3 separate regions of the Homo sapiens genome follow, and all the other regions are linked to region 2. Evidence: fine-mapped expression QTL. A gene starts in region 2. Each other region holds a variant in brackets. All regions are shown on one strand. Distances are from middle to middle.

Region 1 (10,318 bases), 23 kb before region 2:
AGATAGGCTATGCATTCATTTGATTTGTTCTTGGAAAATTCTGATGATTAGCTGGGCATGGTGGTGTGCACCTGTCATCCCAGCTTACTTGGGAGGTTTGAGGTGGGAGGATTACTTGAGCCCAGGAGTTCAAGGCTGCCAAGAGCCATGATCACACCACTGCACTCCAGCCTGGATGACACAGCGAGCCCCTGCCTCAAAATTAAGAATAAAAATAAATAAAATAAAATTATGGCGAATATTCAATGTAGCCTGATACAGGGAAATGATATGATTTGTTCCACAATCCAATCCAAAAACTTTGAAAATCATCTGCTAATTTAGATTTTTTTTTTTGAGACAAGGTCTTGCTTTGTTGCCAAGGCTGGAGTGCAGTAGTGCAATTTCGGCTCACTGCAACCTCCACCTCCCCGGTTCAAGCGATTCTCCTGCCTCAGCCTCCCAAGTAGCTGGGATCACAGGTGTATGCCACCACACACAGCTAATTTTTGTATTTTTACTAGAGACGGGGTTTCACCATGTTGGCCAGGCTGGTCTCAAACTCCTGACCTCAGGTGATCCACCCGCCTCAGCCTCCCAGTGCTGGTAACTCATGTCTATAATGAGCCGCTATGCCTGGCCACTAATGTAGATATTATACAAGGCAGCCTACATCCTCTTAGAGAAGAGAGAACTTGGTGGTAACTGAAAACATCTGTAGTATGGCCTGTCCTTGCCCCCAGAGAGGCTGCATGGACAGTGCCCTCTGCACTGTCTTCCCCAGAGCTCCTGTCAGCAAAGGGGTGCCTGAAGCCAGGGTCGCCAGTCCTTGGCTCTGGGACAAAACTGGTCCATGTGTGAAACTGGATGCTGGGAACGTATTGCCAACCTTTGATTTTTATGATGTTGTAAACCCAGATGTCTTAGCTCAGACATATGTGTAATGTATTGGAACAAGCCCAGACTTTGAAGTCAGACAGACTTGTGTTCAAGTCCAGACCCTGCCGTTCACTGACCAGCTTAGCTTGGGCAAGTCCCACAGGCTCTCAGATCCTCAGTATTCCCGGTGGTGTGTGGTGGGTCCCGCATGAAAGACACCTACCTGTGCTGGGCCCCTGCTTTGGGTGAAGTTCTGGAAATGCAAAGGTGAATGAATCTTTTCCTTGCCCTTAAAGAGCTCACACTGTAGAGCTGTGGGCACAGGTTCCCGTGCTGTGCAATGGGGTGGGGACTTTGAGGTAGACACTGGGGGTGGCCAGGAGAGCCTGGCCATCCTGGAGCATGGCACAGACTCCCCGTCCCCCTCACTCTCATCCCCACATCTGGGGCACCAGGGTTCCCACAGTGAGGTGGGGCATAAACCCTGCCTGGCAGAGAGGCCGACAGAGGTTATACAGGCGTTCCCTGACAGTTCAGATGTTACAGTCAGAGTCTCGTTGTTTTCTTGCAGTCTTGAGGCTCCAGACAAGTCAGCTTTGTAAATGGGCCTAGGGTACAGATTTGAATGTTTCAGAGGGAGATGCTCTGCTTTTGGGTCTATCAGTGACAGGACCCAGTGGGCTGTCAAGGGGAAGGGGGAAAGGGATGGTGTCCCAGCCATGTCATCCACAGTCCTGGTTTTCCAAGAGAAAGGTGACTTCCGTGCGTCATTATAACAGGGAAGAGGTTAACCTGGAAGCTCAATGGTTCTGGGACACTGTGGAAGGCTGGCCTGGCCCTGGAGGGTGGGGGGCAGGACAGGCAGTTGACATATGGGTGGCTGAGTGTGTCTGGCTGGATCAGGAGTGCGGGCGGCCAGCGAGCTGGCACCGGGCCTGGTTAAAGGCCTATCAGAGTCTCATTGACTGGCTGTCTTTGATCTCTGTTTATTCACAAGTCTGAAGAGGTAACGCCCGTGCTCAGTGATTAATTGCATTTTGGGTGGAGACCACATGCCTTAGTGATAGCTGCAGCCACAGGGACAGACCAAGGTTTCTGTCAGTATCCAGCCTTGAAGGTCAAAGTTCTCCCTATGCACCTTCTCATCACCTGCATGAAGCTTGCAAAGGCAGCCGCCAACCTGTAGGGGACATTCAGTAAATGTCACTTTTCTCCCTGCTGGCCCTTGTCTGACATTACTCAGCATTTCAGAAGTGGCATATACTATGGACTTACAACAAGCCTTGAACATTCTTGGAAAACTTGCCCAAGCTGGAATCCCATTTTTATCTTTATAACCATCTTAGAGATGAGTAGGGCAGGTAGAGTCGTTGTGATTGTGGAGATAAAGAGCACTGAGTAACCGATGGATGGGAACTTGGCCTTCCCCACATTAGTTAACCAGTCAGTGGCAGCCCTTGGATGGGCCCCGATTCTTGCAGCAAAGCCCTATTGTAGCCACTGATGTGGTTCTCGGTTAGCTGGTGAGGTCAGTATGGGGTCATTCCTTGCTTGCCAAATCCCTTGTCCACTCCCAGCTGGAAAAAATTTTTTCGAGTTATAAAGTCCCCATAATCCCGGAAAAGGAGCTGATGCGGCTGTCCTGTTTTGGGCTTTCCTCGACATTCTAGATTTGAACCATACTAAGTACTTCCCAAGCAGGAATTCCTGGCTGGCCCTGGCTAGTCATGAGATGCACTGGAAGTCCCTGGGCAGCCTCACATGGCACCAGATGCCCTCAGTGCTCTGCTCTCCAACCCCCTCTCTCCCCACCCCCACCCCACCCTGGAGACCAGCTTCTTCCTGCTTCACTCGCAGCGTTTCCTGCTGCCTCTCTGGTGGAAGCTTCTAGAATGTGTTTTGCTGGCAACTGGGAGAGCAGCAAGTGTCTGCATACCTTTAATCTCCTCCCAGCCCTTAACTAGTGGTGGACAGATGCTGGGGTATAAATCCTCCAGCTCCCTTGTCCCCAAGCCAGAACAGTGGTGAGCAGTGGGCTACGCTGTCTCCAGATTTCCCCATGGGTGGAACCAAAGTCCCCCCTCTGTGGACACTGCTCGGTGTCACAGCCTTGCTTGGCTTCCTTCCCTTCCATTCCCTCGCTCCCCTGCAGGATTTTCCTTACAGTTTTCCTAGTAATTCACATGCATTCCCCTCACAGAGTCAGTTTCTGGGGAGCCCTATCTAAGACAGTTGCTGAAATAAAATGTGAATATCTAAACAAATATGATCGCTTACATTCGTGTAATGGACTCCCATGGGGTCCCTGCTGCCTGAATCCTACCTCTCATTACATCCAGCCCCAACACGCCCACAACAGGGAGCTTTCTAAAACCCAGCTCAGGTTACGTAGCTCCTCCACTACCCAGTTTAAGACAATTTATCTGCGAAGTCAAGGCCATACTCCTAGCAGAGCCCTGGGTTTCTCCTTGATCTGGCCACAACAACTTCCACTCCAGACAGCCCCCTGTGGGTTACGTACTGTCCGGCTCCACAGGGAGCCATCCCCTCTCCCAAGGCTGCGTCGAGCTTCAGAGCCTGTGCTCATGCTGTTCCATCTTCCAGGTTTGCCCTTCTCAGTTTCCTTGAGCTGATTTTACCCCTTGTCATCTCCTGTAAAGTAGACTCAGTGCCCCCTTTTGCTCCCCTAGCACCCTGGGTACATCTCCACCTTGGTCGTTACCCTGTTTCTATGTTGATCTCTCACACAATGAGAGCTCCTGAAGAGCAAAAGTCCGGGTCTGACCATTGCTGACACTGCCCCCGAGTCTAAGCCAGTGCCCACCTGGCAGGCACCTGACATGTGGGTCAGAACAACCTGGTGATGCTCCCAGAGGAGCTCCATGAAACATGGTGCTATGGACCCAATCTGTCTCCCCAAAATTCCCATGTTGATGCCCTGACCCCCAATATTCAGAGATGGGGCCTTTGGGAGGTGATTAGGTTCAGATGAGGTCATGAGGATGGGGCCCTCATGGTGGGATTAGTGCCCCTATAAGAGGAGACACAAAGGCCAGGCACAGTGGCTCACGTCTGTAATCCCAGCACTTAGGGAGGCTGAGGCAGGCTGATCACCTGAGGTCAGGAGTTTGACACCAGCCTGGCCAACATGGTGAAACCCCATCTCTACTAAAAATACAATACAAAAATTAGCCGGGCGTGGTGGCGTGTGCCTGTAATCTCAGCTACTGGGGAGGCTGAGGCAGGGCAATCGCTGGAACCCAGGAGGCAGAGGCTACAGTGAGCTGAGATCGTGCCACTGCACTCCAGCCTGGGCAATAAGAGTGAGACTGCATCTAAAAAAAAAAAAAAAAAAAGAGATGCCAGAGAGCTTGCTCTCTCTCTGTCTCTCAGCCATAGCAGGACATAGCCAGAAGGCAGCCCTCTGCAAGCCAGAAAGAGAGCCCTCACCAGGAACCAAAGACGTCAGCATCTTCATCTTGGACTTCCAGCCTCCAGAACTGTGAGAAGTAAATATCTGTGATTTAACCACCCAGTGTATGGTGTTTTGCTATGGCAGCCCAAGCTGACTAATGCACATGGGTACAGTAAACCCAAATGTACATTTCTGGGCAAATACCAAAGATCCTGTTCTAGAATTCAGTGTCAAGACCTACCAAATATTTTTTAGGGTTGGTTTTTCTTAATTATGGGAGAAAGAATTGAGGCATTTCTGTCCATTAATTTTACCTGTATGTAATGACAATTACATCCATTGTTTTAGGCTATCTTGATCCAGGGTGGTCTAAAAATCACTGGGCTAAGCTGCTGACCCCTCAGCCTGACCTCCTGAGTCTCCAGAGAAAAGCTCTGGAATCCGGCTTTGTGTAGACCTCCCCCAGGACTCTGATGCAGAGAACAGGTGCAGCCCATGGTGCTGTCTAGCACCCCTGGACCTAAAAGCTCTAAGGCCAGGTCTGAAACTGAACTCATGAATGCTCTCACTCCAAGATCCCACTTGATCTGTTTGATCTATTTGATCCAGTGTGATCTGTTTGATATTTAAGTTTTATGAATTGTTTGCAAGTGACATACAATGTCAACAGTGAGTCAGGCACCCCCAAAGCCAAATAGGGTGGATTCATCAGAGATAAAAGCAACCAGCGAGACTGGCCTGCAAGAGTCATCCCGGCCACTCTCAAGGCATGTGAACGTTAGCCTCACCTTCCAAGGCCCAAAGTCCCTGCTCTTCCTGAGGTTCTCTTGGATCGGCCAGAGGGGCCCGTGTATGCGCTCTGCATTCTGCCTCGGGTTGGGGGGTTGGCTAAGAAGGGATCTCCTAGCTTCTGGGCCCTGAGCAGCAATCAGAGCCTCCTGGGGCCTGCGGGACTTCCTGGTGGCGCCACCAGCCCTTTTAGTGCCAGCACGTTGGCCTTGGCTTTGCTGGCTCTTCCAGCAGCCAGCACTGTCCCTGCCAGGAACTGTGATCCCACAGCCAAGGCTTTGTAGCCTCTTCATGGAGAGAGAGGCTGTGCAGCTTCCTCTTCAGCTGGGCCAGGGTCCCTTGGGGTTCCCTTTCTTCCAAGGCCACATCCCTTAAGAAACAAAGCAAGTCCTTCTCAGGTGCTCGTGATCCTTGCAGGGGGTGCCTCAAGGACCTTCCAGGCAGGTGGAGAGAGGCAGTGACCTAGTCTTGCAGGAAGTGTCCTCAGTCTTCATGCAGAAAGCCTTGGGGACCTGGGCAAGAGAAGAGTTAAGTTCTGGGCTGAGGCTTCAGTGTTCAATTTCTTTATTTCCTGTTGATGACATTATTGCCTTCCTACAACCATTGACACATGTTGCTTTCATCTGTT[T/C]CATTTCAAGACATGAGTACACTCGCTGGAAACTATGCTTAATAGCTAAACTCAAAACATTTGGATTTCCTTTCCTTCTGTGACTCTTTGCTGGTATGCTGCATTCTCTAGTTTTTTTGGGTGGTGGTGGCATGTGTGTTTTTTTCAGCCACCATTTCTAAGCAGCAAAAAGAGAAGTCACTGGCTCTCTGGCCACCTGCCTCAGGCCCATCTGCTGCATATGGGATATTTCCCTTCGCTGGAGGAGGCCTATGTTTGCCCCATGTTGTGGTGGTTGGAGAGCATCTCTTCGTCCTCTTCTTTTACCCAGCTCCTTCCCCTGCCTGTCAGGGAGAGGACCAGCCTTGTCAGGGAGAGGACCATACCTACAGGATGGGCAGATGGCTTCTTCCAGTTGCTGTGTGCCCTGGAGCCTGCACCTACCCTTCCCACCTTCCCCAGCAGTGCAGGGCTGCATGACTCATGGCTTGGACCTTCTGAACAGAGCCTCCGGAATAGAGAGGTGAGCTTGTCAGTCTGGACCCGAGGACTCAGGGGAACAAATAGGACTTGCTGCCTGGGCTGCCTGTGGAGGGGATCTGGGCAAAGCTCCCCTTGGCCAGACCTTGGATGGAAAGCGGCCATTGGAAGCAGGCCAGCCTCATCTGGTTGGAATAGGGTTTGACACGTGTTTCCAAGCCTGGTCGCAGAGCTGCAGCTGCCACTAGCCCTTCCCTGGGCCCGGACTGCGCTGCCCGTTGACAGTCTGCAAAGCAAGCAGTCAGTCTGCTATGGAAGGGTTTGCAAGGTGGATGCCCCCCTAGCCTGGGGTGACTGCCCAGCCCCCACCAGCCTCCTGGGAGGGACATATTCCCAGGAGGAAGCCAGAGGGGAGCGGGAGGGGAAGGCAGCCACAGTCTGACTCCCTAAGATGAAGAAAGTCACTTGCGGTATGCATGGACCTTTATGTCCATTTCTCCTTTTATCCTTCCCGTAACAGAACGGCTTATTCCCATTTTGCAACTGGGAAAAGTGAAGCCCAGGAAGGGTGAGAAATTTGCTCAAGCTAGGCCAGGTGTGGTAGCTCACACCTGTAATCCCAGCTGAGGATTACAGCTGGGAGGCTGAGGCAAGAGGATCACCTGAGGTCAGGAGTTCGAAACCATCCTGGCCAACCTGGTGAAACCCCATCTCTACTAAAAACACACAAAAATTAGCAAGTTGTGGTGTCAGACACCTGTAATCCCAGCTACTCAGGAGGCTGAGACAGGAGAATCATTTGAACCCGGGAGGCAGAGGTTGCAGTGAGCCAAGATCATGCCATTGCACTCCAGCCTGGGTGATAGAGCGAGACTCCGTCTCAAAAAAAAAAAAAAAAAAAAATCAGAAAAAAGAAATTTGCTCAAGCTCACAGAGTTGGGTTTGTTTTGTTTGAGACAGGGTCTCATACTGTCGCTCAGGCTGGAGTACAGTGGCGCTATCACAACTCACTACAGCCTTGACTTCCCAGGCTCAAGCGATCCTCCAGCCTCAGCCTCTCAAGTAGCTGGGACCACAGGTGCAAGCTTTCATGCCTGGCTAATTTTTAATTTTTTTTGTAGAGATGGGGCTATGTTGCCCAGGCTGGTCTCGAACTCTTGGGCTCAAGCAATCCTCCTGCCTCGGCCTCCCAAAGTGCTGGGATTACAGGTGAGCCACTGCCTTACACAGCTTTTAAATGCTGAAGTTGGGATATGGGCCCAGACTTGAGGTCACCAAAGCCAGTTTTCTTTGGGATGCATCAAACCTGTCTGCCTGGAGGGAGATGGTGGTGGGTGCACTAGGCTTGGTGGGTGCGCTAAGCTAGACTTTAAGAAGATGGCCGGGCTCGGTGGCTCACGCCTGTAATCCCAGCACTTTGGGAGGCTGAAGCAGGTGGATCACGAGGTCAGGAGTTCGAGACCAGCCTGGCCTACATAGTGAAACCCCATCTCTACTCAAAAATACAAAAAATTAGCCAGGTGTGGTGGCAGGCACCTGTAATCCCAGCTACTCGGGAGGCTGAAGCAGGAGAATCGCTTGAACCCAGGAGGTGGAGGTTGCAGTGAGCTGAGATTGCACCATTGCACTCTAGCCCAGGCGGCAGAGCGAGACTCCATCTCAAAAAAAAAACCAGAAGAGTCCATACTCCTCCCATTTTTCTCCTCGGTCCCTCTCTCCCACTTCATCCTGGGCCTCTTCTGTTCAGCAATCCACATTTCAGGCAAATAGGAAGAAAGTCCGCTAATAGACAGGTAAGCGTGGTTGTGTGCATTTTATCCAGGAGGAAGAACATTTGAGGCCATTCTGCTGTGCCTTTCAAGTCCGCAGATCTGGCCAAGAGCCTGAGATAGCAGGAAGTGTGAAGAACAGAAACTTCAAGGGAAGAAGTGTGTGAGGGGATGGAAATGCTAGAGGCTTATAGGGCCAGGAAAGTTATCACTCCTATCTGTCTGTACTCACTCACAAAAGTCCCCTCGCTCAGGAAATGGACTCCCGGTTCTATCAAACTCATTATATATTTTCTTCCACTTTCTTGTCCGGTATTTCCAGGCTGCTGGTGTCCTGGTTTGGGTGTGTCTGAGCATCTGTGTGTGTGTGAGCATATGCATGTGTGTGTGCACACGTGTGTGAGTGTCTGCGTGTGAGAGAGAGAAAGAGAGAGAGAGGCTGGGCGCAGTGGCTCACAGTTGTAATCCCAGCACTTTGGGAGGCCGAGGTGAGCAGATCACTTGAGGCCTGCAGTTCAAGACCAGCCTGGCCAAGATGGTGAAAACCCGTCTCTACTAAAAATATGAAAATTAGCTGGATGTGGTGGCGGGCGCCTGTAATCCCAGCTACTCTGGAGGCTGAGGCAAGAGAATTGCTTGAACCCGGAAGGCAGAGGTTGCTGTAAGCCAACATCGTGCCACTGCACTCCAGCCTGGGCGACAGAGTGAAACAACATCAAAAAAAAAAAAAAAAAGAGAGAGAGAGACAGAGAGAGAGCTGAGAGTGTGTGAGGCAGTACAGAATGGGGATCCACCAAACGTTGTCTGAGGATGTGATCAGCACAAGATAGGCAATGCCAAGGTGCCTGTCAAAGGTGACGAGGCCCAGTTTCCCTGGCAGTTTGTTTCCAACAGGCCTGGCTGAGACTGTCTAATGGCAAAGCCCCAGATGGACATCCAGGGGTGCACAATGTCCCAACAGCCTAGAACTCTAGCTCTTCTATAGCCCTGGTTGAAAGACACAAGACCAGGCGAATTTATAGTATGTGACTGGGTATAAGAAGGCATTCCAAAATGGCAGGGTCACCTGACATGCTGTGGATTTCCCTTTTTGGTGGTTCTCTATTTTATTAAAAGTTATATAGGCTGTATGCGGTGGCTCACACCTGTAATCCCAATACTTTGGGAGGGTGAAGAGGGAGGATTGCTTGAGCCCAGGAGTTCAGGATCAGCATGGGCACTGTGGCCAGACTCCATCTCTACAAAAAAATTAAAAAAAAAAAAAAAAATTAGCCAGGGCCAGGCGTGGTGGCTCACACCTGTAATCCCAGCACTTTGGGAGGCCGAGGTGGGTGGATCACCTGAAGTCAAGAGTTCGAGACCAGCCTGGCCAATATGGCGAAACCCCGTCTCTACTAAAAATACAATTAGCCAGGCATGGTGGCAGATGCCTGTAATCCCAGCTGTTCGGGAGGATGAGGCTGGAGTATCCCTTGAACCCAGGAGGCGGAGGTTACAGTGAGCCGAGATCACCCCATTGCACTCCAGCCTGGGCGACAAGAGTGAAATTGTCTCAAAAAAAAATAAAAATAAAAATAAACAAATAAATAAATAAATTAGCCAGGTGTGGTGACACACACTGTAGTCTTAGCTACTCCAAAGGCTGAGGCAGGAGGATCACTTGAGGCCTGGAGTTCAAAGTCACAGTTAGCTGTGATAGCACCGGTGCACTCCAATCTGGGCCACAGAGTGAGAACCTGTCTCAAAAGCAATAATAATAATAATAGTATAGAGCCATAGAAATTTTGGAAGGTGTAAGATAACATTTTTCAGTTGCAAGGACCAGAGACCCTCTCAGTTGACCTGAAGGGAAAATGTGGGTGTGTTGCAAGAATAACGTTGCTTGTGGGGGAATTGGCCAAGGTGGCTGCTGTTGACTTCTCTGTCCCCAGGACTTGGCTTTCTCTGCTGGCCTCTGGCCCCTGCCCCCTCATAGCCTCAACAAGCCCCTCGCCCAAGGTGGCCATTCCTCTAGCAGTGTTCTGGTCCCCTCCACGGCTTCAATCCAGTGGAGCAAAATTTTTTCTTTGTTTCCCAGTTCACATTTCTGAGCTCAAGAAGAAAGCTGAACAAATAACTCAGCTCATCATTCTAGGCCAGATTACTCAAGTCACATGGTGTTGGCCTGCCTATAGCTGGCTACCCACAAGTGACATCCCAGTCAGCGGTGCCTGCGAAGGCGGAAGGGGGAAGTGGGTGGGGGTCACATGGTACAAAAAATAGCCAGCCAGGCCTGGCTTCAGGAAGGGGCTGGGGTGGCCAGCAACAGAAACATACTAATGCAAATACAAAAAGCAAGAAAAAAAACGTTCCACAATCCCATCCTCTGTACTGGTTGTTGTTGTTGCTGTTTTGTTTTGT
Region 2 (9,988 bases):
ACAGGTGTCTGCCACCACACCAGGCTAATTTTTGTATTTTCAGTAGAGATGGGGTTTTGCCATGTTGGCCAGGCTGGTCTTGAACTCCTGACATCAGCTGATCCACCTACTTGGGCTCCCAAAGCGCTGGGATTACAGGTGTGAGTCACTGCACCTGGCCTTGAAGATGGGATTTCTTAGGGAAACCTTACTTTTCCCCTTGTGGCTTCAAAATCTCCACCTTGGCATTCCCAGTCCCTCCTCTGCAAAGGGGAGAGGAAGTAGGTCCATTCCTCCTTAGGTGGATCAACTCCACGGAGATGCCCATGTAAATGGCTGCCACTCTAAAAGACGTGGGTCAAACTGTCCCAGATCAGGCTGTGGGTAGCCCAGCTGGCAGAGCCAAGGCAACCTACCTACAGGTAGGGGCTGGATGAAGCGTGCCTTAGAGGGATTTCAGACAGAAGCCCTGTTGTGATTCTTTCAGGAAAGTATCCCAGATTGTATGTATTAGTCCTGTTGTAAAAGTCAAGACCTCCAGATGGTCTCACCCCCTCCATCTCAGCCAGCCCCTCCCTGGGTCTCCTCACTATGGTGTGGAGGAAAAAGAGGCTGGGCCAGGAGTCAGGACCCCTCAGAAGTTCCAGCTCATCTCTGATATGGGCAAAGTGATCCTGGGGAAATCTCACTTTCTCTTTGCTTAATTTGTCTGATTTCTTTCTTTCTTTCTTTCTTTTTTGGAGACAGAGTTTCGCTCTTGTTGCCCAGGCTGGAGTGCAATGGCGCAGTCTCCGCTCAATGCAACCTCTGCCTCTCGGGTTCAGGCGATTCTCCTGCCTCAGCCTCCCGAGTAGCTGGGATTACAGGCATGCATCACCATGCTCAGCTAATTTTTGTAATTTTAGTAGAGACAGGGTTTCACCATGTTGGACAGGCTGGTCTCGAACTCCTAACCTCAGGTGATCTGCCCACCTCAGCCTCCCAAAGTGCTGGCATTACAGGTGTGAGCCACCACACCCAGCCAATTTGTCTGGTTTCTTAAATGAAGGGTTGGACTAGATAACTCTTGAATGGCCCCTGGGCTTATTTCTTTCTGCATAGGACTATCCTTGAAAGATGGTAGCAGGGCACAGCCTCCTTTATCTCCTTTAGGCCCCCTATGGTCAGCCTCCTGGGGTCATTCTTCCCCAGATCGTCACTCCCAATGGACGGTATCTTTGCTTTGGAGATAGGGAGTTTCTTCCCAGAATAGGTAACAGGCTATTGAGGGAACAGACTTACTCTGTGAAAATAACCGCCATGTTCTATTGTGTGTCCAGCTCTGTGCCAGGCATTTATCGTATTGCTCAGGCTCACAACAGCCTTTGCAGGGGAGGTTTCCTCCAGTCTACAGGTGAACAAATGGAAACTCCGTGTGGTTAGGTAACCTCCAGTCTTAGGAAAGGTTACCTGTGTCTCTCTTCACCTTCCTCCCCAAACAAAGGTACATTGTCTAAGGCAGCACTTTTCCAAAGGAATAAAAGACAAAGTTACTGAATCTGAGAGAGCAGTGTCCTGGGTCTCAGCTCCTCTGAAGTCCCAGCTGGTGTGACTTCCCCTCCACAGTGGTTTTTGTGGGGCTGACTAAAGGTCAGAGATCTGGCCAGATGCCTCCCAGGGAGCCCTTAGTCCTTGTTTTCTGGGATTCTAGGATTTCAGCCCAGTATATAATTCCAGCAAAGAATCACTCTCTGCTTTATTAAACTTGTCTGCACTTAGGCAAAGTGGACTGTTTATCCTCCGTAGGGTTTTTCTTTAAAGGTGGAGCGGGGGGGCGAGTGAGCATGTGCAGAAATCCATCACCTTGCTTTCCAGTTTCCAGGCAACCGTGCAGGATTACAACAAGTCACATGATAGCGCTGCTGCCAGGGACAAGGGGAAAATGGAAAACGTGCTATCTTGAGAAACGGGCTGCTATAAGCACAGGACTTTGGATTCTCCTCTAGAAATATTATCAACAAGTAGTCAGAGACCCAGAGGCTAGAGAGAGGGCTTTCCAGTACTTGGCCCAGCCTCCTGCTGGGAGGGAAGTGTCCCACCAGATATAAAGCTGTAGGAAAGGGGACAGGCCAGGGGTGATGGTGGAGGGAGTCACTGCCCTAAAGTGACCCGAGCACCTGTTCTGGAAACCATGCTCTCAGAGGAGTTATTTTTTATTTATTTATTTTTTGAGACGGAGTTTGCTCTTGTTGCCCAGGCTGGAGTGCAATGGCACGATCTCGGCTCACCACAACCTCCGTCTCCTGGGTTCAAGCGATTCTCCTGCCTCCGCCTCTCAAGTAGCTGGGATTACAGGTATGCGCCACCATGCCTGACTAATTTTGTATTTTTAGTAGAGAAGGAGTTTCTCCATGTCGGTCAGGCTGGTCTCGAACTCCTAACCTCAGGTGATCCACCTGCCTTGGCCTCCCAAAGTGCTGGGATTACAGGCATGAGCCACTGCACCCCGGCCCTCAGAGCAGTTATTATTGACCGAGAAGATCCAAACCAAACCGGGCCTTGCTCCTGGGTCCCCAGTCCCAGTCCCAGTCCCCTCTTGCTACAGTCGCAGCCATGGGATAATGAGGTAGTCCTTTGGTTAAAGTTGAGCCTACAGTGATTAGGGCTGGTTGGGGGAGGCAGTGACGGGTCGGTGGGGACAACTGGGAGGAGAGGAAAACCACCCACAAAGACCAAGTTTCCACTTCCTTTTTGAAAACCTCTTTTTTCTGAACATTGTTTATTTTGATTTTAGATGTTTTGATTTTTCTCTCTCCCCCACCCCCCACATTGTGTGTGTGTGTGTGTGTGTGTGTGTGTGTGTGTGTGTGTGTGTGACTTTACTGTTGTTTATATGGTAGACACTTTTATGGCAATCCATACCCCTCTGTCTACATTTCTGTTCCAGTAATAACACCCTCTGTGGCCCAAAGACTCCCTGGAACCACAGTGACAGTTTTACTCTTGGCACTCCTGGGGTGGCCAAAGGTGGTGGCTGTGTTCTTGGCCCTGGGCCAGCTCAGAGCTGGTGGCTAAGAGGGTCCATGGGCCACTGACCCCCCAGAATACCAGCAGGCCGGGGCTTTTAGAGCCCACTGGTTTCCTCACACCAGCAGTTGTCCTAAGGCAAAGATGAGTCATCGGGCCACACTCTTTCCCTGGCCTTCCTGGCTGGCTTCAGGGCCACATTTCAGGGCTGGTACTGCTGTCTTTATGCCAACCTGGCTGCCTGGGGTCGAGAGCCTGGAGCTGCAGACCATGGGCACCGAAAGGCAGGTTTTGGGGAGGAGCGGCCACCTGTCATGGCACCCACGAGCCAGAGTCCAGAGTCTTAGACTAGAAAGTCTAAGAGCTTTCTAGTCCCTTGTCACAGTCCCTTAGGCTGAGGGCAGGTGGCGCACAGTCCTGCCACCTGCCCCTTTCCAGCAGATCATGGGTGGTGGATCTTCCTCCTCTTTTTTTCTTTTCTTTTTTTTTTTTGAGATGGAGTCTTGCTCTGTCGCCCAGGCTCACTGCAACCTTAACCTCCTGTGTTTAAATGATTCTCCTGCCTCAGCCTCCCGAGTAGCTGGGACTACAGGCGCCCCCCACCACGCCTGGCTAATATTTGTAGTTTTAGTAGGGACAGGGTTTCACTATGTTGGCCAGGCTGGTCTCGAATGCCTGACCTCAGGTGATCCGCCTGCCTTGGCCTCCCGAAGTGCTGGGATTACACGGGTGAGCCACCACACCCAGCCTCTTCCTTCTCTTTTTCTATGGATACCTAGATAGAGCCACAATTCTTGCATGTTTTAAAGTTCTGAAGGCCTAATGACAGGCCATCTCGCATTTAAAAGGGCTCGTCATCCATTAAGTTGGAGAGTAAGAGCCTTGCACAGCTCTGAGGCCAGGACTCTGCCTTTCACTTCTTGGATCTCTTTGGTTCACACCTTTATGTGTGTGTGTGTGTGTGTTTTTTTTTTTTTTTTTTGAGGGAGTCTCGCTTTGTCACCCAGCCTGGCGTGCAGTGGTGCCATCTTGGCTCACTGCAACCCCCCCACCCCCGTCTCCTAGGTTCAAGCGATTCTCCTGCCTCAGCCTCCCGAGTAGCTGGGACTACAGGCACGTGCCACCACACCCGGCTGATTTTTGTATTTTTAGTAGAGACGGGGTTTCGCCATATTAGGCAGGCTGGTCTCGAACTCCTGACCTCAGATGATCCTCCAGCATGGGCCTCCCAAAATGCTGGGATTACAGGCATGAGCCACCGTCCCCGGCCCTTTGTTTTTTAAAAGGAAGAAAAGTTAATTATTCGCTCATAACATAAGGAATCATTCTATAGCAGCAGCAGAATAAATACACAATGCTCTGGGTTTGTGACATATTTTCTCATTTTAACGGAGAAGAGAAGGTTGTGTGTGCCTTATAAACGTTTTTGGGCAAATGTGGGAGAAATTCAAAGGTGACAATGGGGTGAGGAGTTTTCGATACATTAAAACGGCATGCATGCCTTGTCGTTTGGAGTGGGAAAAAAGATATTCCTATCGGTTTAATATGTAACATATGGCAGAAGAGGGGACTTTGGAAGAGTAACGGGTATGCAGTTGTTTGGGAGAGATGGCCAATGTGTGCCGCTACGAGGGTCTTATGGCCAGCAGGTTAGGAAGCTGGACCTAGGTCTTCAGGGCACTGAGGTATGCCTCCTAACTGGTGTTAGCACTCAGGCCTATACTGGCGGATTCACACCCCACTTTCACACATGCACAAACGCAATTCATCCACCAACTGCAGTCCTATATTTACCCGAACTCAGATGCACGTGCACAAGCGCGCACAGGCATGCACACGCCTCCAGCGGCTGGGCCCGAGTCCGCCCTATGACAGCGGGCCAGCCAACCCCAGGGCCGGAACTCCCTTTATAAAGTCCTCCAAGCCCAAATTCCCAGGGAAACTTGAATAGAGGTAGAAAAGCGTTTGATGATAGAAAAAAAAAAATCTGCTTGCTTGCAGTTCTTGCGATGGCCATAATGCTACCAGAAACTGTTGCATTCCAGAGCCGGGGAGAGCGAGGGCAGGCAGGGGGAGGAGGCGGGAGCAAAGAGGCCGGAGAACTTAAAAGAAGAAATCAGAACTCGGGCTGAGAATGCCCTCGGGGCCGCGGGGGGCTGGCAGGGGGCGGAGGAGAGGCCGGGGAAGGGTTAACGCGGGAGCGGAGCGTGCGGCGGGGGCGGGCCGGGGCGGGGCGGGGCGGGCGCGGGGCGCTGTCCCTTTAAGGCGGGCGGCGCGGGCCGGCCGAGCGCGGCTGTGATTGGCGCGGCGGGATCACTGGCTCCGCGAGCCTGGCCCGGGGGAGTCGGCTGGAGCCGGCTGCGCTTTGATAAGGTCCTGGCAACTCAGTAACAGCCCGAGAGCCGGGAAATAAAAATAACCCCTCAGAGCGATGGATTTCGGGGCCGCCCGGCGGCCGAGGCGCCCGCCGAAGGCCCTGCTGTAAAAGGTGGGGGTGGAAGCTCGGCCCCAGCGGAGCCGCTTCAAAGAAAGCCCCCCTCTTACAGGGGGCGAGGTCGCGCCGAGCCGCGGCGTGGGCGCGGGGGGCGGGAGGGGGCCCGGCCAGGCGGAGGCCGGGCCTGGAGGGGGGCGCGGGCGGGGCGGCCCTGCGGAGCGGTGGCGGGGCTGCGGGGGGCGGCCCGGGGCGCGGCCGGCGCGTACCTCCCTTTCAGGACCGTGCGCTCGGCTCGCGCCTTTGAAGTGCACAGTTAAATCCACAGCGCAGTTTTTGTTGGAAGCGCCCGGAGGACATTTGGTGCGCCGAGTGACTGCTGGAAACAGGACCTGCGTTGAAAGCCGGGCCGGGCGGGGGCGGAGGCCCGCTCGGATCTTTTGCATAAAAGGGGCGGCGGGGCGCGCCGTTCCCCCTCCCCGGCCGGTGGCTTTCGCTCTGAACCCGGGATTGTTGTTTCCCGCACCCCCTCCCCCGCCGCACGACTCCCCATGTTCCCCGACGCCGCGGCCGGCCCGGGGGGGCCCGGGGCTGCCGCCGCGAGCCGAGCCGGGGGCCGGGGCCGGGCCCCTGCCAGGGGCGCCTGCGAGGTCTCGCCGCCGAGCGCGCGCGGGGATCAATGGTGAGTGCCGAGGCCGAGGCGGCCGGGCGGACCGCGCGCTTTGATGTGCGGGGCGGCCCTTTGAAGTTGGCAGGCCGGCTATTTCGGGGCGCGCTAGGGGCCGGCGCGGAGGGGAGCGGCGGACCCGGCGCCCAGCGTTCCGGGGGGCTTGGCCGGGCAGCCTTGCGCGCCCTGCGCCGGAGCCCCCTCCCCAGCGCGGTGACCGGGTTGGCGGGGGGCCCAGAGAGGAGACTTATCCGAGTGGCGGCAGTGGCGGGGGCGGAGAGGGGGCAGATACCCCCCGGGGGTCGCGTCGCTGTCGCGGTTATGGATGTGAGTCGGCGTGTGAGTGCGCGCGGGAGTGCCTTTGGGAGGTGGGATGAAAGGGTAGCGGCGCCCCCCGCTTGCCCTCCCCCGCCCCCCGCCTCTCCTCCGCCCCATCCTCTCCTCCTACTTCTCTTCCCCCTCCCCTTTTCCCCTCCCTGCCGCGGGTCCGCGCTAAGGGGCCCACAGCGCTGGCGGAGGCTCAGTCTGCGCGCAGGACCGGCCCAAGTCCGGGGCGCCCGTGTCCCTCGCGTCCCTCCTCCCGGCCCGGGCCCCTCGCCCGTGGCCGCCCCGGCCCCTTTTGCGGAGAGGCAGAGACTCCGCGCGTCGCCATTTCTGGACTAGGCTGCTGCTTTCTGTGCTTTTTCTGCGGGCGCCTCTGCAAACGGCGGCGCCGGGGACCGACCCCCCGCCCGGGCTCGGGGCGCTGCTGGCGTGTCCCGGGGTTCCGGCCTCGAGGTGTGCCCGCCAGGGCTCTGGAGGCGTTCAGTTGCATTTGGGCCGGGGGACCGGGCCGGAGGGGCTCGGAGGACATGAGAGCCTGGCTTCGGCGGCCTTCGTCTTCCAGGTAACGGGGCCGCTCCACCTCCCACCGCCCGGGTAGCGCGGTGCCAACGGCAGCCCCACTTCTCCGTGGGCCGCGCCGCCCAGCCCCGCGGCTCGAGGCTCTGGTCGGGTTCAGCGTGCACCCATCCCAGATCCGGGGTCCCTGGCTTCTCGCCCGGGGTTGCACCCCGTTCAGCCCCTACCCTTCTTAGTTTGATCTTTTCCGTGCTAGGGAAAGCAGCTTGTTTATTGGTTAGATAAGACTTTTTTCTTTGGAAAAAAGACAGGCTTGAAATCAGTAGAGTTTGGGATTCTTGGCACAGGCAGTAGTGGCGTGAGACGGCTGGTGATCCAGTTTTGTAGGTTTCGCGGATCCGGGAGGTGGGTTGGGGGCACGGGGGCGACGGTTCCGAGGCTTCTCAGCTCTCTCTCAAAGTTTGAAGATGAAAGTCTCCCCTGAGTGAGTTGGTTTCTGGTTTGGGGGGAGGTCAGGGAAGACAGAGGTGTTGACTGAGCTGGATTCTTGGTGGGGGTAGGGGGCGCGTAGCGAACACTCAAATCTGAGTTGGGGAGGGGGTGTTTGCGTGCTGAATCTGGGAGTCCGGGAGCCCAATCCGCCTATGCTGGGCGGGCTTCTCTTGGGCCAGGATCTTCTGAATTTTTAAGGAGTGGGAAGAGGGAGCGCAGAGGGAGGGGGTGGGTGGGGAGAATGGGAACCAGATGCCGGGGAAGGGCACGTTTGGAGCTCGAGTTATCTGTGCAGGGCCGAGTGGGGAAATATACCGAAATTGGTTTCACCTGCACACAGCCTAGCGGCTGGGAGTGCGCCTTTTTGGAGTTGATGGTATCGGGGGAGGGGAAGGGAGGGAAGGCGAGGCGCGGGCTGAGCTGCCCTGCGTGCGCCCTGGCCGAGTGGGTTTTTGGAAGGTTGTGTCTTACACCTCCAGTGTCCCCCTGCCGTCCCCAGCTCTTGCCTTCCTCTCACCTTCCCCGCCTCTTTCCCAACAGCTCCCTCCCACCCCCAACCCCGAAAAGTGTGCAGGGAGCTCAGATTTCGCTTTTGAAAAGCAGCGCCTGATACTTTAGATGAGCACCTCGCAGATAGCTGGGTTGCTTGATTTGAATTTGAGGAGTTGAAAAGCCTGTTTACTTTCTTGCTTTGATGTTGGGTAGATCTGGTTTTGATTAGATCAATACCCTTTTCTCTCTCCCCACCTCCCCCCTTCCTTTTCTTTCCAGAGAGGAGGTTCAGATGAGCCCCTGCTGACTTGAGAGAGACAGAGAGACCACGCCGATTGCTGAGAGGAACTGGAAGAAGAAAAATTCCCAGACTCAGTGGGAAGAGCTCCCTCACCATGAGTAGCGCTATGTTGGTGACTTGCCTCCCGGACCCCAGCAGCAGCTTCCGTGAGGATGCCCCGCGGCCCCCAGTGCCAGGGGAAGAAGGGGAGACCCCACCGTGTCAGCCAGGGGTGGGCAAGGGCCAGGTCACCAAACCCATGCCTGTCTCTTCCAACACCAGGCGGAACGAAGATGGGTTGGGGGAGCCGGAGGGGCGGGCATCTCCGGATTCCCCTCTGACCCGGTGGACCAAGTCCTTACACTCCTTATTGGGCGATCAAGACGGTGCTTACCTGTTCCGAACTTTCCTGGAGAGGGAGAAATGCGTGGATACCTTAGACTTCTGGTTTGCCTGCAATGGATTCAGGCAGATGAACCTGAAGGATACCAAAACTTTACGAGTAGCCAAAGCGATCTACAAAAGGTACATTGAGAACAACAGCATTGTCTCCAAGCAGCTGAAGCCTGCCACCAAGACCTACATAAGAGATGGCATCAAGAAGCAGCAGATTGATTCCATCATGTTTGACCAGGCGCAGACCGAGATCCAGTCGGTGATGGAGGAAAATGCCTACCAGATGTTTTTGACTTCTGATATATACCTCGAATATGTGAGGAGTGGGGGAGAAAACACAGCTTACATGAGTAATGGGGGACTCGGGAGCCTAAAGGTCGTGTGTGGCTATCTCCCCACCTTGAATGAAGAAGAGGAGTGGACTTGTGCCGACTTCAAGTGCAAACTTTCGCCAACCGTGGTTGGCTTGTCCAGCAAAACTCTGAGGGCCACGGCGAGTGTGAGGTCCACGGAAACTGTTGACAGTGGATACAGGTAAGACTTTGACGGGGGCGGGTGGGCTGATGCTGTGGACTTTGCAGATGTTTTAAGTATGGTGGATGGGTGGATGGGTGTGCTGCAGAGACTGACAGGTCTGTTGAGTTAGGACTGCTGGCCATGAACCCTTTTTGATCTTGCTTTTTGTTGTTGAAACAGGGGGAAAGCGATGCACATACAGTAAATACCTGCAGTCTTCCAGTGCTGACTTCAAACAGTGGCAAGCAGTATTCACTAATGTGGGTTACTTATTATCCCGGGCTAGTGTCTCAGAAGAGGTTGAGAGAGAGAGAGAGGACAGCAGCTTTTGATGCCTCTGAGTCACCAGATCCACTAAGCGCCGGTTTTGGAAGGGGTCACTTCACCACTAATCAGTAGAGGGTGGAATTAATGTGGCTAGGGAGGCAGCTGGGTTGTGGTGGAGGCACAGGAAATAATATGTGCACCCATTGAGGGGTAAGTGGGATTTTTTTTTGAACTTTTCTGTTAAGATAAGAGCCAGCAATTGGCTTAACTGAGCTTGTGGTTCCCTTTGTAGAATTAGATATTTACCCAGCAAGAAAGGCCTCTAACTAGGGAAGGTCCTGTGACTTTCCCAAATGAAGGACCCTTACCTTTAGAGCTTGCTGGCATATTAATCCAGGTTTTAAATGCTCATGAGTCCGAGGGTCAGACTTCAGTTGATTATTTTGTTAGTGCTGATGGAGAAGAGATCTTGGCCCGGGAGTACTGGGGCCCTGGAGTACTTTCTCTTTGAGGCTTCAAAGACAAATAGTTCTTTGCAGAATGGCCAAGTCTTAAGATTCTTGACCTTTGGAGGCAACTTCAGACCTCTTGTTAGAATGAGTTTTTCTGTTTTCTCCCCTCC
Region 3 (10,318 bases), 32 kb after region 2:
CTGCCCTGGACCCTTTCATTGTTTCAATTGGTTGACCCTAAGTGTACCAGCTCTCTGGGTCTGGGCCAGCCACTTTTTTTTTTCTTTTTGAGACAGAGTCTCGCCCTGTTGCCCAGGCTGGAGTGCAGTGGCTTAATCTTGGCCCACTGCAGCCTCCGCCTCCTGGGTTCAGGCAGTTCTCCTGCCTCAGCCTCCCGAGTAGCTGGGATTGCAGGCGCCCACCACCACACCCAGCTCCTTTTTTGTATTGTTAGTAGAGACAGGGTTTCGCCATGTTGGCCAAGCTGGTCTCAAACTCCTGACCTCAAGTGATCCGCCCACCTCGGCCTCCCAAAGTGCTGGGATTACAGGCGTGAGCCACCACGCCCGGCCTAGCAGCCTTTTTTTCAAGCCATTCTACAAAATCTCAGAAGAAATGGGGAAATGGACATGACTGTGTGATAACCCCCATTAGTTGTTCTCATTCTGCTGGAATAAGGGGTGGGCTTTAGGCATTCTGAGATCATGCCATCCCAAAGGTGTCCTGCTCTGGGTTTGTCTCTTTAGCACTCTCCAATCCAGGTGAGACCCGGCATCTCTGTGATAATTTCTCTTCTCTCATCTTCTTGAGGAAGCACCCCATTTATGCCAGCCTGAAAGAGGCCGCCGTATACTTTCATTTGGTGGCGGTGGGGGAAATGATACCAATTTGTACAACCAAAAGGAAATCATCCTTTTCTGCATGCTGCATGCAGCACATGTGGGGTTGGACTGTGTGTCCCCCAGAGCTGCCTGACTCTGGGATGTGGGGCTCTGCCCCAGCCCCCACTTTGGGTTTACAATTGCAGCCCTAGTGTTTGGATACCCTGTCACTTATGCACATGTGCGCACGTGTGTGTTTGCTTTAGATGTGTGTCTGCTTTAAAATGCTAAACTTGTTCCATTCCATCTTATTTTCAGTCACAAAGAGCCAAAGAAACTGGCAGGTGTCCACGCGCTCCAGGCCAGTGAGTTGGTTGTCACTTACTTTTTCTGTGGGGAAGAAATTCCATACCGGAGGATGCTGAAGGCTCAGAGCTTGACCCTGGGCCACTTTAAAGAGCAGCTCAGCAAAAAGGGAAATTATAGGTAAGAGTCCTGTGGCTTTTTTCTGCTCTCAGTTTGTTTGCTCAGAACCAAGAGCCAGAGCCTGGAGCAGCTCCCCTGGCTGAGCAGACCTAGGTGGGGCAGGGTGGGAGGGGGCTCAGCAGGCGCTGGGGGAGGCTCCCTTCTCATTTCTTCTCTCCCCTCACCGCTAGCAGCAATAACGAAGCAGCAGCCGCAAGAGGGAGGCTGCGTGGAGGGTTCTCTGGGGGACCTGGCCAGGCTCTTTCCACCAGGTGAACCAGACTGAGGAGAGAAAAGGAGCAGCTGCTTGCACCGACAGGAGAGTGGGGCTCAGGCCACACTGCAGAGGCTTTACCTGCAATTGAGGGGCTTGTGGGCGAGTGGGGAGCAGGGAGCAAAAAGAGGGACAGGCACACTGATTAGGAGGGAGGGTCTGGAAGCGCCGCCCTACTGGCTTGAGTTTAGGAGAGACCCCCACATTGAAGGCTCCAAATAGTCAGGAACCATGCCTAGGAAAAGTCCCCCGTGTTTTTCTTACCCTGCCTTTCCACCTGAACAGCCTCCCTGGATTTTATGGGCCATTAGAAGCAGAGATGCGCCTTTGTCCATAACAAAGAAGGGGCTGGACCTGCGGGTGGGCACAGGGTGAATAGGGCAGTCTACTCCTCCTGTCCAGGCCTGGGCCCCGCTGCCTTCTCCCCTGCAGGGGCTTCAGGAAGGGAACTTCCTGGTCTCCTTACCTTGTCTGCAGAGTGGACGGAGGTGCCCTTGAGAAGGTCCATGCTGACTTTTTAGGGCCCTTGAGAGGGTTCAAGAGCTGAGGAGGATGAGGGCCAGCCCTAGGCCATTCCTTCTCTTGATCATTTCCCTCGTAAGGAGCAGGTGATGACTCTGCCTCAGTTCATCTGGAGTCCTCCCTTGCCCCTCTCCATGGCCTGCAGCCCAAGAGAATGTGTGGATTCTGCTCCAGTTCTGTCCCAGGTTTCCCAGGTTTAGGGCTCCAGGCTGGGACAAGGGTGAGACAGGGGCACCCTAGTTTAAGGAGGTGCTCACTCTGGGGTCTACACCCAAGACAGAGTTCCAACTCCTCAGCTGTGTGCTGTTGTCCCTGTGCCAGGACCACAGTCTATTCCCAGGTGTGAACCCGTTGCCGCCACCAGGGCCAGGGGTGTGAGTGGAAAACTCTGAATAGCACTTGGTAACCTGCCAGGTGGGCATGGGCTCCTGGACGGGGATGAGTCCACCTGCAGGGCTCTGAGACACCCTCCCCTCTAGAGCAGGCCTTGTATAGTTTTACCAGCCACCTTCATCTGGGAGTTAGTTTGGGCGGGGGCTCAAAGTGATTCTCTTTGGAGTGGGGAGGGGATGGAGGTTGGACTGAGCCCCTGGAGGTAACTGGCCAGCAGGGCGTGTTGCTGGGTCTGGATAGTCCCTTTTATACCTGGGCAGAGACAATTGTGAAAAGGTATCAAAGGGGTGGGGGAACAGGCCTGGCTGCTGCTGCTGCTGCTTTTATCTTGAAAAGACACAAGGTGAAACTAATGACACAAGTGTGTCCCTCTGGGGATTCATTTTGATCTTGGCTTTGTCTCGGCTGGACTTCGAGTGGAACTGCAGGTGACCTTGGAGAAGAGCCATGTGGCGCTGGCATAGGCTTGTGGGGAAAGTGCCTCCTTCAGCTGCTGTGGCCACATCTGGCTCTGATTTTTTTTTTTTCTCCCTGAGGCACAGTTAATAAGCCTGGCTTTGAAGCCCTGGCCTCCCCTTTAATGCACAAAGACTTGCACAAATGGTCAACTCTCCGATCCTCTCCAGTTCTTTCCTGAGTGGATCAGGCTGTGGGAAGGCCCTCCCAGCTGCCTTATCTCTGCAGGGCCTGAGCTAGACTCAGTGTCCTCCTGGGGTAGGACAGGGACACAGGGTGTCACGCCTCACCCTCCCAGCAGGGCTGGTGCTTCAACATCTCAATTTGTACAAATACATCCCCCCTTCAAAAAAATAAAAAAGACCCAGTGAGGTTGGGGCCGTGGAGCAGGGGTGGGAGGTGGGGGGGACCTGGGATGCGTTGAGTAATCTCAACATGGCAGGGGTTCAAAAAGCAAACAGTCCCTTCAGACGCGCCAGACGCTGTTGGTGCCAGATGTCAGAAGAAAGCAAAGTTTGCCACATGAAGCATGTTGCAGTGGAAAAGCCTGTTTCTTGGAGAAAATGAGGGCAGTGCAGTGTGTTTGAAGTCCTGGGGGTGGGGCTGAGAGAATGTGGCCTCTCTCCTCTCTGGAGGAGGTTGCAATTATGTAAAAGGTCGCTGCGTGTTTGCTCAGACATGCTGTGAAAGCCCAACTTGGTAAACCCTGGAGGGGTCGGAGCTGGGGCCAAAGGGGTCTGACGGAGGGTGGCGTTGGGATTTGAGCCTCTTATGTGGAGAAGTGACTTTTCCCCCCACTGTCCTGAGTCTCCTGTGCACAGAGCCCCTCCCCATTTTCTCACTGTCTCCTCTCACGCTCCCCCGAGAATTTTGACCCCTTGACATGACGTGTCTTCAGTGCTGCCTAGTCAGAGCCATGCCGTTGTTCACCCCACTGCATTAGCTGGGTCAGGAATGCTAAAAACAAAGAACCTTGACTAAACCCAGCTGTTCACTGTATTTAGCCTTATCTCCTACGAAAGTATTTGGCTTGCCTTTATTAAAGAGGGAAAAAATTGAGCTCTAACCAAGGGGAGTTAATTTTTTTTTTTTTAAAGGGAAAAGACAAAGCCCAACCATAACCCTGAGACACAATTAAATGCTTGAAAGGTTCTCCCATCCCCCCAGGGGACTGTGACCTTCCCT[C/T]TGTGAGTGGCCTTTATGGGCTGGAAATGACAGCTTGCAGGGGCAAGTTTAATCCCTCTGAGGGGTCTCCCTTGGCTGGGGACAGGGAAGGAAGAGGCCCTTGCTTAATTTCCTCGGAAGGGGTTTAGGGGTGGGCCTGGCCCAAGAGGACAGCAGTTGTTTCCGAATGTGGCACTCCTGAGAGGCCAGGCATTTGCATCTGTACAATTAAACAGCCTCAGAAGAAAGAACGCTGGGGAGGGATGAAAGGAGCCTTTAATCAACGGGCATAATAGAAGGGCCTTTGGTGTTTGACCCTGGAGGGATGGGATGGGAGAAGAGGCCTGGAAATGGGGAGAAGAGGGGAGGGCATCATGGGGCCAGTGCCGTCTGTTCGGCCCTGGGAAGCTGCGCTGGGCTGGCTTGCCTCCTGTGTGGCTGTGCCAGGGCCATCCAGGAGTGTTGCACTTGGGACCTGGAGGATGGGAAGGCCGAGAGGCCTTTGGACTGCTAAACCATCTGGAAGTCAGCCTTTTACAGACTTCGGCAGGTTCCGGCTCTCCAGGTGTGATGGGTTCAGGATGGCTGAACCTGGAGATAGTCTGGAGTCTCTTTGAAGGACCTGCTTGGCTCCTGCTGCAAAGGAACTGCAGGCATTTGTCCTTCCCTTCCCTCCCCCACCCCACTGCTGAAAAAGGTTGGCGGGGGGAAAGCAGCTCTGCTTTTCACAGTGTATACGTGTCAGGAGACAGCAGAGGTGCTGGGTTGAAGATTGCAGGTGGCAGGCCCAGCCCAGGCTGCTGCTCAGTGGGTGCCTGGCCTTCATCATCTCGGCCCACCTGCTTCTTGTGGTGTGGCCAGTCCCAGCTGCCGTCTTAAAGCAGATGTGCGCAACAGTGTACAGGCACACCTGCCATAGCAAATTCCTAGGATACCTCAGTCCTCCATGTTGGTATGCTTTTCTTTTCAACAATGTGGAAAATGCAGTTTACCAAGAAGCTTTTTTGGTTTTCCTTTTAAGGTATTACTTCAAAAAAGCAAGCGATGAGTTTGCCTGTGGAGCGGTGTTTGAGGAGATCTGGGAGGATGAGACGGTGCTCCCGATGTATGAAGGCCGGATTCTGGGCAAAGTGGAGCGGATCGATTGAGCCCTGGGGTCTGGCTTTGGTGAACTGTTGGAGCCCGAAGCTCTTGTGAACTGTCTTGGCTGTGAGCAACTGCGACAAAACATTTTGAAGGAAAATTAAACCAATGAAGAAGACAAAGTCTAAGGAAGAATCGGCCAGTGGGCCTTCGGGAGGGCGGGGGGAGGTTGATTTTCATGATTCATGAGCTGGGTACTGACTGAGATAAGAAAAGCCTGAACTATTTATTAAAAACATGACCACTCTTGGCTATTGAAGATGCTGCCTGTATTTGAGAGACTGCCATACATAATATATGACTTCCTAGGGATCTGAAATCCATAAACTAAGAGAAACTGTGTATAGCTTACCTGAACAGGAATCCTTACTGATATTTATAGAACAGTTGATTTCCCCCATCCCCAGTTTATGGATATGCTGCTTTAAACTTGGAAGGGGGAGACAGGAAGTTTTAATTGTTCTGACTAAACTTAGGAGTTGAGCTAGGAGTGCGTTCATGGTTTCTTCACTAACAGAGGAATTATGCTTTGCACTACGTCCCTCCAAGTGAAGACAGACTGTTTTAGACAGACTTTTTAAAATGGTGCCCTACCATTGACACATGCAGAAATTGGTGCGTTTTGTTTTTTTTTTTCCTATGCTGCTCTGTTTTGTCTTAAAGGTCTTGAGGGTTGACCATGTTGCGTCATCATCAACATTTTGGGGGTTGTGTTGGATGGGATGATCTGTTGCAGAGGGAGAGGCAGGGAACCCTGCTCCTTCGGGCCCCAGGTTGATCCTGTGACTGAGGCTCCCCCTCATGTAGCCTCCCCAGGCCCAGGGCCCTGAGGCCTGCTAGAATCACTGCCGCTGTGCTTTCGTGGAAATGACAGTTCCTTGTTTTTTTTGTTTCTGTTTTTGTTTTACATTAGTCATTGGACCACAGCCATTCAGGAACTACCCCCTGCCCCACAAAGAAATGAACAGTTGTAGGGAGACCCAGCAGCACCTTTCCTCCACACACCTTCATTTTGATGTTCGGGTTTTTGTGTTAAGTTAATCTGTACATTCTGTTTGCCATTGTTACTTGTACTATACATCTGTATATAGTGTACGGCAAAAGAGTATTAATCCACTATCTCTAGTGCTTGACTTTAAATCAGTACAGTACCTGTACCTGCACGGTCACCCGCTCCGTGTGTCGCCCTATATTGAGGGCTCAAGCTTTCCCTTGTTTTTTGAAAGGGGTTTATGTATAAATATATTTTATGCCTTTTTATTACAAGTCTTGTACTCAATGACTTTTGTCATGACATTTTGTTCTACTTATACTGTAAATTATGCATTATAAAGAGTTCATTTAAGGAAAATTACTTGGTACAATAATTATTGTAATTAAGAGATGTAGCCTTTATTAAAATTTTATATTTTTCAAAACACTGGCCTCGTCTTTGAATCCCCAGGGTGGGAACAGGGCCGAGGGGCCCTTTTGTGTGTAGACATCTGTGCTTGATTTCCTACCTTGCCCAAGCCCGTCTCTGACCTTGAGCCCTGACCTGATCTGGACCCACCTGGAGGTTTTGTAAAGCCATTTATTCAAATCACCTGGCTACTGGCTGAGGCTTTTCTTGCCTTGGAGCAGGCTGTAGATGACATCTCCTTTGGGGGTCCTCTTCCCTGTAACACCTCCATTCAGCCTCTTCCTCCTGGGCAGATTGTCTCCAGTCCGGCCAGGTAGGTGCAGGGGACCAGGGGATGAGAGGAGGCCCTCCCAGGAGTTTCAACAGGTGTCTCCGACATGAAAGCCGTTCAGCAGATGGTTTCATAGACCTGGAATGTCCACGTGGGGCCAATGGACTTAGAGATCAAAGCTAGCCAGGCACCCTCCCCATTCTGGGAGCTGATCAACAAGGCTGACTATTAATCCTATCAGTATTTTATCGTGAGCCATCAGGCTCAGGGCCGGTCAGGTGTCGGGAACATAGCAAGGAGGTGGTTCAGGAGGAGGCGACACAGGCAGCTTCTGCACCGCTCGGTGGACAGGTGTGCTTATGTGGCCAAGGACCTCGGCAGGCAGTTGCCCGCTCAACAAACGTGCCCTCCCTGTATCCTGAGCACTTGGCCTGCATGCCAGGCCATACTTTAGATCTGGGAAAGCAGGTCTTTTTAGTGGAGTCCTAGGAAGAACCCTTTTTAAAAACAGAGGATCTGTAACTGCAGTTGGACTTGACTTCTTGTGTGCTGAGTTTTCATGAAATGAACTCGGTGGTCTGCAGTGGATCTGCTTGGCTTGTTCTTCCTGCTGCCAACTGGCGTCAGGCCGGCAGCATAGAGAAAGGCCAGGGTTCTGGCCATGCGGGGTAGGGATGGACTCGAACCCAGTAGCCTCGGAGTGGTGGCAGTAGTAGGAGTTGTCAAGGCTGCTGGGAGAGTCCTGAGTTACCCTCTGAGAAGGCGAGGATGTGAGGGCATCTGGCAAGAGGCTGGAGGAGCTCTGATGCCTTGAACTTGTCCCTAACCATGCAGGTGCTGTGCCCTCCCCTCCTGGCTGGAATGGGGGTTCATACCAGGGTGTCCAACACTTTCCGAATTGTAAACTTCTTTCCAAGACAAAAGGATGAAGAGATGCAACCTATTGTGTGTGGTGAAGATTGGGGTTTGTGGATGGCTTTTCATCTCTATCTTCAGGCCTCTTGATTGAGGAGAGTGATGAGGTTGGGGCTTGGGCCTCAGACAAACTGGACTGAAGGCCCAGCACCACCACCCTCTGGGTGCCATGAGCGGGTTTCTGGCATCTTCTAAGGTGCATTTGTGAGAGAGAACTGGACTAGTTGATCACTCATGTTTCTATCTCCTGTTTTCATTCTTTTTTTTTTTTTTTTTTTTTTTGAGACAAAGTCTCACTCTGTCATCCAGACTGGAGTGCAATGGCGCAATCTCGGCTCACTGCAACCTCCACCTCCTGGATTCAAGCGATTCTCAGGCCTCGGCCTCCTGATTAGCTGGGATTACAGGCGCCCACCACTACGGCTGGCTAATCTTTGTATTTTTTTAGTAGAGATGGGGTTTTGCTATGTTGCCCAGGCTGGTCTCAAACTCCTGAGACCTCCCAAAAGTGCTAGGATTACAGACATGAGCCACTGCACCTGGCCCCTGTTTTCATCTTTAAACTTTTTTTTTTTTTTTTTTTTTGGAGGCAAGAGTCTTGCTCTGTTGCCCAGGCTGGAATGCAGTGGCACAATCTCAGCTCGCTGCAACCTCCGCTTCCTGGGTTCAAGCGATTCCCGTGCCTCAATCTCCCAAGTAGCTGGGATTACAGGCATGTGCCACCACATCGGCTAATTTTTGTATTTTTAGTAAAGACTGGGTTTCGCCATGTTGGCCAGGCTGGTCTTGAACTCCTGGCCTCAAGTGAATCTTGCCCTCCTCGGCCTCCCAAAGTGCTGGGATTACAGGAGTGAGCCATCGCACCCGGCCCCTCTTAAACTTTTAAGTATACAATACAGTATTGTTAACCATAGGGACAGTGTTGCACAGAAGATTTCTGGAACTTATTTATCTTGCATAATTGAGACTTTACGCACATTGACCAGCAACTCATTACCCCCTCACTCCAGCCCCTGACAACCACCATTTGGCTCTCTAATTCTGCAAAGTTGACTTAGATACCTATATAACTGGAATCCTGCAGTATTTGTCAATCCGTGCCTGGCTTATTTCATTTAGCACAATGTGCTGTAGGTTCATCCGTGTTGTCACAAATGACAGGATTTTACTCTTTTTTTTAAGGCTGAATAGTATTCCATTGTGTATTTATATTACATTTTCTTTATCCACGAATCCATCGATGGACACTTAGGTCATTTCCACATCTTGGCTATTGTGAATAATGCTGCAATAAAAAAGGAAGTGCCAATATCTCTTCAAGACCTTGATCATCTCTATTTTTTTTTTTTTTTGAGATGGAGTCTCACTCTGTCGCCTAGGCTGGAGTGCAATGGACTGCAACCTCCACCTCCTGGGGTCAAGTGATTCTCCTGCCTTAGCCTCCCGAGTAGCTGGGATTACAGGCGCCCGCCACCATGCCCATCTAATTTTTTGTATTTTTAGTAGAGATGGGGTTTTGCCATGTTGGCCAGGCTGTTCTTGAACTCCTGGCCTCAAGTATTTCACCTGCCTTGGCCTCCCAAAGTGCTGGGATTACAGGCGTGAGCCACCACACCTGGCAAGAACTTGATTTCAATGATTTTTGATAAATACCCAGAAGTGGAATTGCTGAATCATATGGCGGCTCTATTTTAAATGTTTTGAGCAATCTCCGAAGTGTTTTCCACAGTGGTTGCACCACTTTGCATTCCCACCAACAGTATACAAGAGTTCCAATCTCTCCACATCCTCATCAACACTCGTTTTTTTGTGATAATAGCCATCCTAATAGGTATGAGATGATACCTCATCATGATTTTGATTTGCATTTCCCTGATGGTTAGTGACACTGAGCATCTTTTCAAATACATGTTGGCCATTTGTGTGTCTTTGGAGAAATGTCTTTTTTTTTTTTTTTTTTTTTTTTTTTTGAGATGGAGTCTTGCTCAGACACCCAGGCTGGAGTCCACTGGTGTGATCTTGGCTCACTGCAACCACTGTCTCCCAGGTTCAAGCGATTCTCCTGTCTCAGCCTCCTGAGTAGCTGGGATTACAGGCATCTGCCATCATGCCCGGCTAATTTTTGTATTTTAGTAGAGACGGGGTTTCACCATGTTGGCCAGGCTGGTCTTGAACTCCTGACCTCAGGTGATTCCCCCACCTCGGCCTCTCAATCCTGTGCTAGGATTACAGGCATGAGCCACCGCCCCCGGCCGAGAAATGTCTATTAAAGTCTTTAACCCGTTTAAAGATTGGGTTATCCTAGCACTTTGGGGGCCAAAGTTGGGGGATCGCTTGAGCCCAGGAGCTCAAGACCAGACTGGGCAACACAGTGAGACTCCATCTCCAATTAAAAAAAAAAAGATTGGGCTATTAGATTTCTTGTTATTGAATTGTAGGAGCTCTTATATATTTTGGAACTGTATATTTCTGCCTGTTCTAAGAGGGGCCCATTTTTGTGCTTCTCTGTCATATTAACACTTAGGGCCTCCTAATCCCATGTGGATGTGCTTCTGGGAGTTGAGAGCCCTTGAAACTGTTCACAGTATCACCTGCGCATGCCTTCCTCTGAGGCAAGGGTCTATATTTTTTATGTGATTCTTAAAGGGATTTGTGCCTCCAGAGAAAATGCTAAAACCCATGGCTTGGGCTG

The links. PIP is the estimated chance that this variant, and not a neighbour inherited with it, causes the effect.
Region 1: its variant is fine-mapped to the expression of AXIN2 in whole blood (TOPMed, PIP 0.93).
Region 3: its variant is fine-mapped to the expression of AXIN2 in whole blood (INTERVAL, PIP above 0.99).

What each region holds. Positions count from the first base shown.
Region 1 is chr17:65,580,086-65,590,403 of GRCh38, reverse strand. No RefSeq gene overlaps it. Among named protein-coding and RNA genes, the nearest start is that of AXIN2, 24 kb to the right of the region's middle. RefSeq lists an enhancer at 6,370-6,904. The variant T/C (reference allele first, on the strand shown) is at 5,691.
Region 2 is chr17:65,556,935-65,566,922 of GRCh38, reverse strand. AXIN2 (axin 2) reads left to right here and starts at 5,275. Exons shown (of 11, transcript NM_004655.4): 1 at 5,275-5,473; 2 at 8,187-9,117. The coding sequence starts at 8,303. RefSeq lists a silencer at 5,112-5,261.
Region 3 is chr17:65,524,701-65,535,018 of GRCh38, reverse strand. It overlaps AXIN2 (axin 2), which reads left to right. Exons shown (of 11, transcript NM_004655.4): 10 at 940-1,107; 11 at 4,917-6,456. The coding sequence ends at 5,043. Among named protein-coding and RNA genes, the nearest start is that of AXIN2, 32 kb to the left of the region's middle. RefSeq lists enhancers at 2,937-3,449, 3,964-4,476, 4,477-4,991, 6,814-7,108. The variant C/T (reference allele first, on the strand shown) is at 3,917.